Linked DNA regions of Homo sapiens. The protein of the gene in region 2 binds, or shares a complex with, the protein of the main gene of each other region. Each region holds a gene or a part of one and is shown on either strand. Other genes may lie near its edges. A codon is read from its position in the direction of its gene.

Evidence for each region. The genes of interacting proteins can lie anywhere in the genome.
Region 1: the proteins of GIGYF1 (region 2) and EIF4E2 are in contact, whole or in part, in a crystal structure (PDB 5NVK), measured with the Homo sapiens proteins. Residues at the interface, in NP_001362694.1 of Homo sapiens: Leu36, Ala37, Asp38, Tyr39, Arg40, Tyr41, Gly42, Arg43, Met46, Leu47, Leu49, Tyr50, Glu53, Asn54, Lys55, Val56, Pro57, Glu59, Leu60, Glu64, Phe65, Ala67, Val68, Leu69, Gln70, Asp71, Glu72, Pro73, Leu74, Gln75; in NP_004837.1 of Homo sapiens: His54, Pro55, Leu56, Gln57, Tyr64, Lys83, Gln84, Ile85, Gly86, Val91 (codon at 3,474), Glu92 (codon at 3,471), Trp95 (codon at 3,462), Arg96 (codon at 3,459), Phe97 (codon at 3,456), Tyr98 (codon at 3,453), Ser99 (codon at 3,450), His100 (codon at 3,447), Met101 (codon at 3,444), Val102 (codon at 3,441), Arg103 (codon at 3,438), Leu107 (codon at 3,426), Phe113 (codon at 3,408), Ile137 (codon at 859), Arg138 (codon at 856), Leu139 (codon at 853), Arg140 (codon at 850), Gly142 (codon at 844), Leu143 (codon at 841), Ser145 (codon at 835), Arg146 (codon at 832).

Annotation. Positions count from the first base shown.
Region 1 is NC_000002.12:232,560,689-232,567,720, reverse strand, and holds part of EIF4E2 (eukaryotic translation initiation factor 4E type 2), read right to left. Parts: intron 3,475-7,032; coding exon 3,370-3,474; intron 893-3,369; coding exon 740-892; intron 644-739; coding exon 507-643; intron 1-506. UniProt on the Homo sapiens protein: Recognizes and binds the 7-methylguanosine-containing mRNA cap during an early step in the initiation. Acts as a repressor of translation initiation.
Region 2 is NC_000007.14:100,678,975-100,684,250, forward strand, and holds the end of GIGYF1 (GRB10-interacting GYF protein 1), read right to left. Parts: coding exon 5,263-5,276; intron 5,184-5,262; coding exon 5,046-5,183; intron 4,945-5,045; coding exon 4,844-4,944; intron 4,659-4,843; coding exon 4,576-4,658; intron 4,471-4,575; coding exon 4,330-4,470; intron 4,257-4,329; coding exon 4,038-4,256; intron 3,804-4,037; coding exon 3,616-3,803; intron 3,509-3,615; coding exon 3,348-3,508; intron 3,262-3,347; coding exon 3,098-3,261; intron 3,020-3,097; coding exon 2,890-3,019; coding exon of another isoform or gene 2,798-2,889; coding exon 2,745-2,797; coding exon of another isoform or gene 2,714-2,744; 3' UTR 533-2,713; downstream 1-532. UniProt on the Homo sapiens protein: May act cooperatively with GRB10 to regulate tyrosine kinase receptor signaling. May increase IGF1 receptor phosphorylation under IGF1 stimulation as well as phosphorylation of IRS1 and SHC1.

The sequences.
Region 1 (7,032 bases), on a different chromosome or scaffold from region 2:
TCACACACACACTATCCCCCTTCTTCTAAGAGTCAGCTCTATACACAAGGAAATGGAGTCATTCCTGATAAGTAGTCAGTATCCCAGGACAAAGAAAATAGACTGAAGCTAACAAGTTAAAAAGACATGCAGAAGTGGGGTGAGGGTGGGCAGGGTGAAATTATCTTAAAAAACAGCAAGAAAAAGAAAAGCACTTGTCTTTCATTTTAAGATAGTGGTTAGCATATGAAAGACAAGACAGCCTGTAGAAATTAAGCAAGCCCAGGTAGTACAACTGGGTTTCTGCAGATGGGCTCTCTCTGCTACAAAGCACCTGGTAGTATAGGTGGCAGGGAGCCTCGCTGACAAAGAACTGCAGCAAGTAGCCAGAAGCCCTAGAGGGAAGGCCTGGTCTGTCCCTTCTCCACAAGTAAGTCTCCTGTCCGGCCATATTCCTCTGGGCCCAACTACAGATCTACTTATACTAAGCTTAGGGACACGTCCTCCCATAACCCCCCAACACGTACTTGATGCTGTCGGTGTGAGTTTTGTATTCCATAATGGTGTTGGGAGGTAGGTTAAGCACTCGCCGAAGTGTGTCCCGGATTCGGGCTGTGGTTGCTTGGTCACTGGCAGTCTTATTCCATATTGAAATAATGTCTTCCTACCAGAGGAACAGAAGGAATCATCAAAGCAAATCAGGGGCAGCGAGGAGAGCAAAGGCAACACAAGAAACCAGCCTGGCTCATGGGTGGCTTACCTGAAAGCGGACAGACACCACAGCCCCACAGATCTCCTCCCCAACCATGAACTGTTCCCCCAGCATGGCCAAAATGAGATTCTCCCAGCAACGGGAGGCCAAGCCCTTCCGCAGCCGAATAATCCACTTGCCACCATTTTTATTTGCATCATCCTGTAAAAAGACAGAAAGCACTGAAGTTAAAATATGGTTTCACAGCCTTTTTTTGTATGAAGGCAGTAAAAAGCCAAGAATCTCTTAAACACTAAGAAGTCATATCACTTTCCAATTATTCAACTCTATAGAAAAACTGATGGTAGGACTAGGGAGAGAAGAAATGGGGAAAAAAAGAAAAACAAGGCTGGGATCCTTGGCATAAGCCATTTATTAAAATGGCTAAACAGACCTTTTAAAAATAATCCCCTTTACTGGAAATACTTTAGGAATCAAAACGAAATGATGTCATATTTCAAGCACAGATCATCCGTTTACTTGCTAAAAGTACTGAATGTCTGCTGGGCGCAGTGGCTCACGCCCGTAATCCCAACACTTTGGAAGGCTGAGGTGGGCGAATCACGAGGTGAGGAGATCGAGACCATCCTGGCTGACACGGTGAAACCGCGTCTCTACTAAAAATACAAAAACAAAATTAGCCGGGCATGGTGGTGGGCGCCTGTAGTCCCAGCTACTCGGGAGGCTGAGGCGGGAGAATGGCGTGAACTCGGGAGGCAGAGCTTGCAGGGAGCCGAGATCGTGCCACTGCACTCCCGCCTGGGAAACACAGCAAGACTCCGTCTCAAAAAACAAAACAAAACAAAACAACAACGACGACAAAAAAAAGTACTGACTGTCACTACATACCAAGTACACAGACATGAAGCCCCAATCTAGTTTTTTTTTTTTTCTTTTTTGCGATGGAGTCTCCCGCTGTCACCCAGTCTGGAGTGCAGTGGTGCGATATCGGCTCACTGCCACTTCTGCCTCTTGGGTTCAAGCGATTCTCCTGTCTCTGCCTCCTGGGTAGCTGGGACTACAGGCACATGCCACCACACCCGGCTAATTATTGTATTTTTAGTAGAGACAGGGTTTCACCATATTGGCCAGGCTGGTCTCGAACCCTTGACCTCGTGATCTGTCTGCCTCGGATTCCCAAAGTGCTGGGATTACAGGAGTGAGCCACTGCGCCTGGCTGAAGCCCCAATCTCTACTCAGATCCAGTCCAGTAGAAGAGACAGCCAAGGATATTAATTACAGCAATGATACTATAATTATAAGTGCTGCTGTTAACAGATATGCACACTATGTTAAGGAAGAACAAGATAGTTGGAAACAGTCAAGAAGTGGGTCTTTTTTTTTCTTTTCTTTTTTTGAGATGGAGTCTCGCTCTGTCACCCAGGCTGGAGTGCAGTGGCACAATCTTGGCTCAGTGCAACCTCCACCTCCTGGGTTCAAGTGAGTCTCCTGTCTCAGCCTCCCGAGTAGCTGGGATTACAGGCGCGTGCCACCACACCTGGCTAATTTTTGTATTTTTAGTAGAGACGGGGTTTCACCATGTTGGCCAGGCTGGCCTCAAACTCCTGACCTCAGGTGATCTGTCCACCTCGACCTCCCAAAGTGCTGGGATTACAGGCATGGGCCACCATGCCCTGCCAAGAAGTGGGTCTTAAGGTCAACGGGAGTGAGTCAGGAAAAGCAGCTGAAGGGCACTGCGGGCACTGGGAAGAACATGTCTGTGCATAAACTGACAGGAGGGTCCACCTGCAGGGAAGGGAAGATTTAGAGATGATGGGAGATGAGGCTTGAAAGGTAAATGAGGTGCAAGATCATGTGAGCAATGAGGAGCTGTATAAGATGGGTGGCGTGGATGTGACCACATTTGTCTTCTCGAAAAATGCCATGGCACCAGAATAGAAGATGCACTACACCAGGGCGCAGCCGAATACTGGCTCTGCAAAGTTCTAGGTCTCCAGTTCCTGCCTTTAAACTTATTTTCTTACCCACTTTAATCATATGTGTACTATGTAAAAATATTACACACACGCACAAACAAGTTCTATAAGGATAAAGGTAACTGAAAACAAAAATCCTTTAATGTTCTAATACCATTTTAGTCATAAAACAGTCTTTAAAAAACACCCAGCACCAACCCACACAGACAAAAAATGGCATCAGTGCATTTCTCTAGAGGCTCGGGTTCCAAGGATATACTGGAGAGTGATGCAGTTTTGAGAGACTTTAAAACACTTTTAACCAGCTGGGCACGGTGGCTCACGCCTGTAATCCCAGCATTTTGGGAGTCCAAGGCGGGCGGATCACGAGGTCAGGAGATCGAGACCATCCTGGCTAACACGGTGAAACTCCGTCTCTACTAAAAAACACAAAAAATTAGCCGGGCGCGGTGGTGGGCGCCTGTAGTCCCAGCTACTAGGGAGGCTGAGGCAAGAGAATGGCGTGAACCTGGGAGGCGGAGCTTGCAGTGAGCCGAGATCGCGCCACTGCGCTCAGCCTGGGTGACAGAGCGACACTCCGTCTCAAATAAAATAAAATAAAATAAAATAAAATAAAATACTTTTAACCTTGGCAGGGCTAAGAGACAAAACAAAAAAACCCAAACTTGCTCAAAAAAGCAGTCAGAAGCCATTAGTCCTTACCTCCCACATGGGTTTAATTCCTTCTTTGAAGAGATGGAAGTCACTGTGGCCTGTCAGGTCCCCAGGACGTACCATGTGGCTATAAAACCTCCAGAACTGCTCCACCTGCAGAGAGAAGACCCCAGAGTAAAAAACATGTGTCTTTTACTTTTCTTTGAATGCATCCCAAGGTTGAGATTTAGTTAAGAACATAAGCATGGAAGACACTATACTACAGGCTGTCCTTTTCAGAGGACTCATTTTCATGTGTGGTGTTGTGAGGGAAGACATATTAGAGGAAAAACATACCATCTAGTTTGACAAAATAAAAAATGTAACATTCGCAATTCAAGAATAAAATCTTTGGTGAGAAATGCAAGCCTCAGCCAGGAGCTTTAGTTGGTGAAACCATGTTAATACGCACTCTCCCACTCAAGCTGCAGGGTAGTCATCACATGCAGTAAGAGGACCAGGTTTTTGCACAATGGAAACTCTTTAGCCTTGAGGTATGTAAGTGTCACACAGCCTCAGCCTGAATGCATTTTTTAGAACCAAATCACTTACCGATGAAAGATTGTTTAACTGGCAAATATAGCATTTGCTGAATGAAATACCTCTTAGACCTGTTTAGTTAGTAAGCATAAGTGATAGAATCAACCACATGTAAATACCTCTTAGACCTGTTTAGTTACTAAGCGTAAGTGATAGAATCAACCACATGTACCACACATACCACTCTACATCATGGTGCTGTTGCTAAGTCCAGGCCAATCCAAAATCATACAGGACTTAGCTTCTCATAGCTAGGGTTTAAGGCCCTCTTCTTAGCTAGAAAAATTATGTTTCTCCTTGCCGCTCCTTCACAATCCCGTGAGAAAACTAGATTTATATTTTTCCATCAAGTATATGCTTATTTGTATTCATCACAGTAGTCCTGTTTTTCTCATTAGTGTCACCCCCCCTCCCCTTAAAAAAAAAGAAAAAAAAAAGAGACAGGGTCTACGCAGCAGTATGATCATAGCTCATCACAGCCTCTAACTCCTGGTGTCAAGGGATCCTCCCATCTCAGCCTCCCAAGTAGCTGGGACTACAGGTTCACTAGTGTCTTGATAGGAAAGATTATTTCCTTATTCACAGAGGATACGTAGTAAGTACTGGCCAGTGAAGAGGCACACTTTAGGAGGAAAGAGAAAACACGGAACATTCCAATGAGAAATAGCTGGTATCTGCTAAACTGCTGAGCAGGCTCTAAATCAACATACAGCAAGATACCACAACTGTGGAGCTGACAATGGGTATCGAGTAGACAAAGATTCAGGTCATACTTCTAGATATGGGGAGCACCTAAGGAGAAATCAGCCTTACACTGCGTGAAATGGCTGTCCCTTTAGTTCCTCTCTAGCACAAGCACACGTGATGCATCTTACATGGTAAAAAGAAGTCAGAACTAACGCCATCTATAGGGCTTCAAGGCAGTGCTTTATACTCAGCAACTGCTAAGCTTAGCTGCATGTAGTGACTCGGAATAGTAAATGGTCATATGAATACAATCGGCAATAATGTAAACCTTTATCCACCCTAACATAGTTGAATAAAACCACATATACCCACTAGAACCAAGTACACCCACTAGTGGCTCATTGTGAATAAGGAACTGAAAGGGGCTTGGTGAGGACAAAGTATGTCAACCATCTCCAGTTCCCCAGTCAATAATCGCTTTAACAGTTTGGTCTCCCCAATCTTACAACTACACTGCACAATCTTTTTTTTGTTTGTTTTTTTGAGATGGAGTTTCGCTCTTTTTGTCCAGGCTGGAGTGCAATGGTGCAGCCTGCCTCAGCTCACTGCAACCTCTGCCTTCTGGGTTCAAGTGATTCTCCTGCCTCAGCCTCCCGAGTAGCTGGGACTACAGGCACACACCACCACGCCTGGCTAATTTTTGTATTTTTAGTAGATGGGGTTTCACCATTCACCATGTTAGCCAGGCTGGTCTCGAACTCCTGACCTCAGGTGATCCACCTGCCTTGGCCTTCCAAAGTGTTGTGATTACAGGCGTGAGCCACCGCGCCCAGCCCCACTGCACAATCTTATATGCAAACCATAAGAGAGATGAAGTTAAACAGCTCGAGACTATCATTCATTCATTCATTCATCATTTGAGATGGGGTCTTGCTCTGTTACCCAGGCTGGAGTGCAGCAGTGTGATCATGGCTCACTGCAGCCTCGACTTCCCAGGCTCAAGCAATCCTCCTGCCTCAGCCTCCTGAGTAGCTGGGACCACAAGTGGGCACCACCATGCCCAGCTATTTTTTTACTTTTTTTGTAGAGATGAAGTCTAACACTGTTGCCAGGCTGGTCTTGAAGTCCTGGATTCAAGTGATCCTCCCTCCTTGGCCTCCCTGAGTGCTGGGACTACAGGCATTAGCTACTGTGCCTGGCCTGAGAAATATTATTAAACTTTAAAAGATTTGACAGTTCTAATTGAAACCAAAAAAAAAAATAAGCATTCACAGACTCAGAATATGAGGTGCCGAAAGGACCTCAGAAATCATGTCAGCAACTTGTTTTATAGTTGAGAAAGGTTTCAGGACTGAGTTGCTCTAACCAAGAGGGTCAAGCATCAGAATAGGTGAGCTCTGATTACCAAGTCTAGTGCTCTTTCCATTTCAAGATGATGCCTTCCTAGTCACTCTGACTTCAAGAACTTTTAAATGTTGTTAATGATTAGGCTAAGAATCACTGGGAAACACTGCTTTCAATTTGATAAAAGGATTCATAATGTAATTATTTATCTGTGATGCATTTAATATTGTGAGCCATTTCCTAGTGACCTGAATTACACAACAGACTTTATTTCTATTTTTCAGGTCCAGACCTACAGAGTCAAAATGACAGACTTTAAATACTGTCACACATCCAGTGAGCATGGATGAAGCCTTAACCCAAGATAGTCCTGATGATAAACCACTCCTTAACATATACACTGAAACAAAAGAAAAACCCTCCTCGTACAATTTGGGTAAATTCTTATATGCTTTTTTTTTTCACAAGAGGGAAATAAAAATGCAAGAAGTATGCATAATTACTCCAAAAAAATCTTTTTTTGAGATAAGATCTCACTATGTTGCCCAGGCTGGTTTTGAACTCCTGGCTTCAAGCGATCCTCCCACCTTGGCCTCCCGAAGTGCTGGGATTACAGGCATGAGCTACCAGGCCTGGCCAAATTCTTTAAAATCAATCTTAAACCCATCTCTTCCAAGGCAGTATTCCCCAAACTGGAATCAATTCCTTCTTTCCTCCAAACTCCAAGAGCACTCTAAATGCCTTTCCCATAGTATCACTTACTGTCTTCCCTGTATTAGAAATTCCTGGGCACATCTTATTTCCCCAAGGACAGGATCTGTGCCTTCATTCCTTTTAGAAGCCTACTAGAGCCTTGAATTCATTCAACAAGCATTTATTGAACCAAATATGAACCAGTGCACAAGGTAGTTTATTATTACAAAACCCCTAAGTTTGCTGATTCTAAGATAGCACTGGCAAACTAAACAAGATCTTTGCTTTAGGCTGAAATTTTATCAGCTCAGCATAGTAATGATGTTGATTTCATATTAAGCAGATTATAACTGAGTTGTAAGAGTATTCTAGATACAAGTATTAGATATGATTTGCAATATTTTCTCC
Region 2 (5,276 bases):
AAGGGGATGGAATGGGGGAAGAGGAGGAGCAGGAGGCCCTCATCCTTCTGCTGCCCTGGGGTTGGGGCCTCACCCCTCTGGAGGGCCGGAGGCAGGAGGTGGAAACCCCAGGGGCTGGCTTTTTTAAAACTGGTTTTATTTTAATTTTTATTATATTTTCAGTTTTTCCATAAAGGAGCCAATTCCAACTCTGTACCTGGTCTCTGCCCTTGCTGTGTTCTCCTTGTTTCTGGACTTTGTTGCCTGAGGGCTGCTGAGGGGGTGGATGGTGGGGAAGGTATGGGGCCTGCCAGGCAGCTGGGGCTGGGGGTGGGGTCCCCACTCTCCCTCAGAGCAAAGCTGAAGCCCCAGCCCAGAGCCTTCCGTCCAGAGGTTCTCGGATAAGCAGCCCTCACCATGGTTTCCCCCGTCAGGCTGCTGACCAGAGCCAGCCTGACCAGGCGGGCACTGCTCAGAGCTCCTAGTTCCCAGCTCTGTGCAGAGCCACTCATCCCCATGGCTCTCCCCAGATAACGAGCAGTGGAGGCGGAACGGGAGAACACACACCAAGTTTTATTGGGAGAAGGGAGTATTTACAGGAGCAGGTAAAAGAGAGGGAAGTCACACAGGGTGGAGAGGGGGCGGGGAGACTGTGGGTACAAGGCAGACAGGGAACACGGTGACCCCTGCACCCACCCCAACCCCAGGAAGGGCAGGGGAGCAGCGAGGGCCCAGGAAGACCGGGGCCGGGGAAGGACAGCAACAGGGTCTGAGTCCCTGGGCAGGGGGGCTCAGGGGCTTGTAAACATTGACCACTCTCAGAAGGGGATGGGGGTGGGAGAGGGCTCCCCCTATACTTCCTCACAGGGTTAAGGCCTCTCCAGGCTCATGGGCCCCCTAAGTCCAAAGTCTCTTTAGCTGGGGAGAAGAGACAGGAAGAGTGTCCCCCTTCCCCTGCATTGGCTGCGGCAGGGGTGGGGGGGTTACATTCAGTCACAACAGGAGTCTCCCCCACACCTGGCAAGAGGGAAGGGGAGCTGGGGGCCAGCAGCAGCAAACACTCCCCCCGGCCCGTCACCCCTTATTGCTTTAGAGAGAATATTGTCTTTTCAGGGACGCTAACACTGTGGGAACCAGGGAGAGGCAGGTGGGGGCCCCCCACCCCGAGGCCAGCTTGATCCCCCAACACTGACCTAGTTGCCACTTTGGTGCAAAAAAAAAAAAAAAAAAAAAAAAATCCAACAACAGAAAACCAAACACCATCTTTCTGGGACTAGATGGGGAAAGAAACGGGCCACTCCCCATGTCCCCAGGGCAGGAGGGAGAAATACATTCATGGAGGGAGGCAGTGGCGAAGCCTTGCCCTAATACTGCACTCTGAGCAATGAGGTCAATGGGAGGAGCTGGATGAGAAACCCAAAAGACAAAACTGTTACAAAACCCAAAATGGGCGGAGACGAACCCAAGTAGGGGACCGGGAATAAGAAGTGGGTGAGCAATAGAAGGGGCAGCCTCCTCTGACCCAGGAGCCGCACACTTCTCTTCACCCCAACCTTACCCAACGGTAAAAAGCGCATCATATCAGACCCGGAAGGCCACCTGCTCCTCTCCCATTTGGTCAGCGGAAGGGTCAGGTGCAGAGCTGGGTGGTCCACATCTTACGAGCTGGCTACAGGTTGGGGCCCCGGGCGGCAGCCCCTCTACTGCAACCCTAAGCCCAAAGCCACCCACTCCTTGCCTTTGAGGCCCCTCCTCCTGCCCCCTTCACTGGAGAAACAGCTCAGCCTTCTCTCTGCAGCCTCTGGAGCAATCATCCACCCCCGCCGCTCACAGGGGTGAGGCAGCTCAGGCAGGGGTGAGGCGGGGGCTTGTGGCCCAAAGAATACATTCACGTGGCAAGGCAGAGAGCTGGGGCTTTCAGGTTCAAACCCAGGGTGTCCCCCAAAATGGCAGCAGTGGGAGACGCCCCTCACCAGAACCAGAGTCCTGCTGCCCCACCCTGCCAGCCAGAGAGGTTGGCACGGCTTGGCCCCTCCCGTCTACTCGGCCAGCACAAGATGGCAGCCAGAGAGCTGGGGCCACTCGTCCAATTTGTGCAACTGTCCCCCAAAGCAGCGAAGCCAAGGGGCTACTTTGGCCCCACCCCGGACACCTCAGCCAGCCTCAGTGACAGGAGCTGCTCACAACAGGTCTGGCGGGTGGGGCTCAGACAGGCCTCCTGTGCAAACTGCTGGCCCCCAGCTTCCAGTTACCCCATGGCCCGCCTTCTGGGGGGTAAGTATGGCCTTGGGGGCCAGGCAGGACAGGTCCACGGGGCCTGTGTCCCCACTGCCCCAAAATAACAGTGTGTTTTTTCTTTCAGCCTCCTAACCATTTTTTTTTTCATTTTTCATCTTTTTTTCTTAAAAAAAAAAAAAAAACCAAAAAACAAAAACCTCTGTGGACCTTCCATTGTCACACCCACTATCCTCACAGCAGGAAGGGGTGTTTAGAGTCTAGTTTTTAACAATATTTTTGCCTCTCCTAATGTTTTCTTCAGTCGTTTAAAATTAAAAAAAAAAATAAAAAGAAAAACCCCCTCCCCCAGTCTGTAAAGTGCCTCGTGGTGGGTGAGTTAAGGTGCATCGTGTGTTTGTAACAAGTGCTGGGGACCCCGCCCCTGCCTCTTCCTGTGCTCTCTGCGGGGAGCCTGCAGGCTGGGACCCTCGGTCCACGCCGCTGTGGCTGCCCTGGCCTACAGCCCAGGGGCTGGGGGTCCGGGCTGGTCAGTAGTCATCCACGCTCTCGATCTCACCAGAAGATCCGTGCAGGGAGTACCCTGAAGCCGGGGAGAAGCTGCGTCTGAGCTCTCTCCTGGGCTCCTCCTGCCCTGTGCCAAGGAAGTCCCGCTCCTGCCCCAGCCCAGCTCACCCAGGATGCTGGGGTCTGAGTGCAGCATCAGTGCCCGCCTCTTGGCCTTGCTGCCCTCCCCGGGGCCGAGTTTGGTGCTGTGGTTGGCCTGGAAGGCCGTCTGCAGCGAGGCGCTGCTCAGCCATGCCTCCTAAGGCAGCGGAGAGGAGGGTGAAGGTCAGGAGGCACCAGGCAAGCCCACCCCAGCTGCTGGTGCCGGCTGCCTCACCTGCTGCTGCTGCCGCTGCTGGCTGGCTTTCTGCTTGGCCCTCCGCTCCAGGAATTGTTTGGCAAATTCTTTGGCTTCCAGCGTGTCCCCCAGGCAGGAACGGATATAATCGTGGACATCATAGGGGGATTCCACCTCCTTGAGGATCGCTACAGCCATGGGCACTGCAGGATGAGCGAAGGCTGTCAGGGCCCCCTGGCCGGGTCTGGAGACCCAGGTCCCGCCCACCTCCTGGGAGCCGCTCGCCCACCGTCCAGGCTGCCCGTGGCGCTCAGCGTGTGCAGCATCTGCTCGCACCACTGGGTGAAGCCGTCCTGGGGCCTGGGAATGCCCTGCAGCAGCTTCAGCAGCTTCTCTTCTTCCTCCGTCTTTTTGCGAATGGGCCGACCCGATAGGTGGCTGTATGAGTCACTGAAGGGGGAGGGTGAGTCAGGGTTGGAAATCAGCTGGCAGGGGTTGGGGGGGTCTGCCACCTTCCCCCTCAGGGCCATCCCGGAGCCTCCAGGTGCCACGCCCACCTGAGAGATGGGCTGCTCCGGCTGTTCTTCAGGCCGAGGCCACGGACCAGGCTCCCGCCGCTCTTGGGGGTGTCCTCCCAGAGCCCCAGGCCGCTGCTGCCGCCCCCACTCTTGTCTGGCCCGCCCCACAGTGGCCCAGCCTCAGACACCCACTGGTTCAGGGGGGCAGTGCCCAGGCCCCCAAGCTGCTACAGATGGCAGAAGATCAGAGTGGCTCAAACAAAGGCACCCCAGAAAAGCGGATGGGGAGGCTTGTTTAGGTGGCAAAGGGAGACAGGTGAGGTGAGGGCCACAAGAGCTGTTGCCATCACAGGAGAGGCTGGGACTGGGGCTGGGGCTGCACAAGTCTGGGTTCAGTATCCCCCTCCCTGTGCCACCCTGGAAACTGTAGGGGGAGCCCGGGAGGTTCCCGGCCTGCTCACCACTCGGTGGTTGGGGGCCTGGGCCCGAGCTGGCTCCCGAGGTGGGGGCTGTTTGTGCAGCTGCCGCTCGCCCTCCAGCTGCAACTCCAGGAGCGTCTTCATGGACAGCCCCTGCTTGGCCAGGCCAGCCCAGAGTGGGGGCGGGGAGCTGGGTGCGGGGGGCACAGGGACCGCCTGCTGCTGCTGTAGCAACTTCAGCAATAGCTCCTGCTGCCGCACCTAAGAGGGGGACATGGTGAGGGGACCTGGCGAGGGTTGTCCACCCAGCCAGCTGAGGCTTGGGAGCACCCACGTGCTTGCGCCGAAACAGCTCTTCCTCCTCCTGCCGCCGCTTCTGCTCCTCCTGCTGCTGCTGGCGGCGCTTCTCCTCTCGACGCTTGCGTTCCTCTTCCTCCCGCTTCGCCCTGAGCTCCACTTCTCTGCGCTCCTGGAACTGAGACCAGTGGCCCATCAGAGGGGAGAGCTGCAGGGGACAGCCTGGGGCCTGCCTCGGTCCACCCTTCATTCCCAGGGCCTCAGCCCCAGGATGCCCACTCACTTTATGTTGCAGCTGGAGTTGTTCTAGAATTGGACCCTGAGTCGAAGAGTTAATTGGTATGTCCCAAAGACTGGCCTCACCACCTGCAGGGGGCAGGGGGGCAGAGGCGGCTGCAGGTGGGCACTTGGGCCCACTGATCTAGTCCAGCCGCAGCAGTGGGCTCCCCAGCCAGAATGGCAGCTAGGGGCGTGTGGGGGTGGGGAGCAGACCCCAGACCCCATTTCACCCGGAGACTGCCTTGGGGGTGGGGACCAGTCAGGCCACACACCTGACTGTGATGAGGCTGAGGTATGTACGTCCCAGAGGCGGCCCGAATCTGGCACCGACAAGGACCGGCTCATCGTCGGGAGCAGGTTCTGGTCCCCGCCTCTGAGGAGCAAATTGTGGATTCTTAGGACCCCAAATCCATCTCTGGTCTGCCCCCATCCCCCCCCCACCCTGTATCCTGAGGGCTCGCACGCACCACGCACCTGGGGGGTTTGAGCGCCTGGAGCTGCTGCAGGAATGCCGTGAGCTGCTGCTGCTGCTGCTGTGGCGGCGGCGGTGGTGGCGGTGTCAGGTCCCCCAGAGCTGCCTTTTCTCGGAGCGCGCACTGTGGGAGCTGGCGGCTGCAAATGGGACAGTGGAGATGGTGGGCCACAGAGCCAGCGCCGGGCCTTCTCCCAGCCCACCCCAGGCCCCCCATACCTGCTGACCAGCTG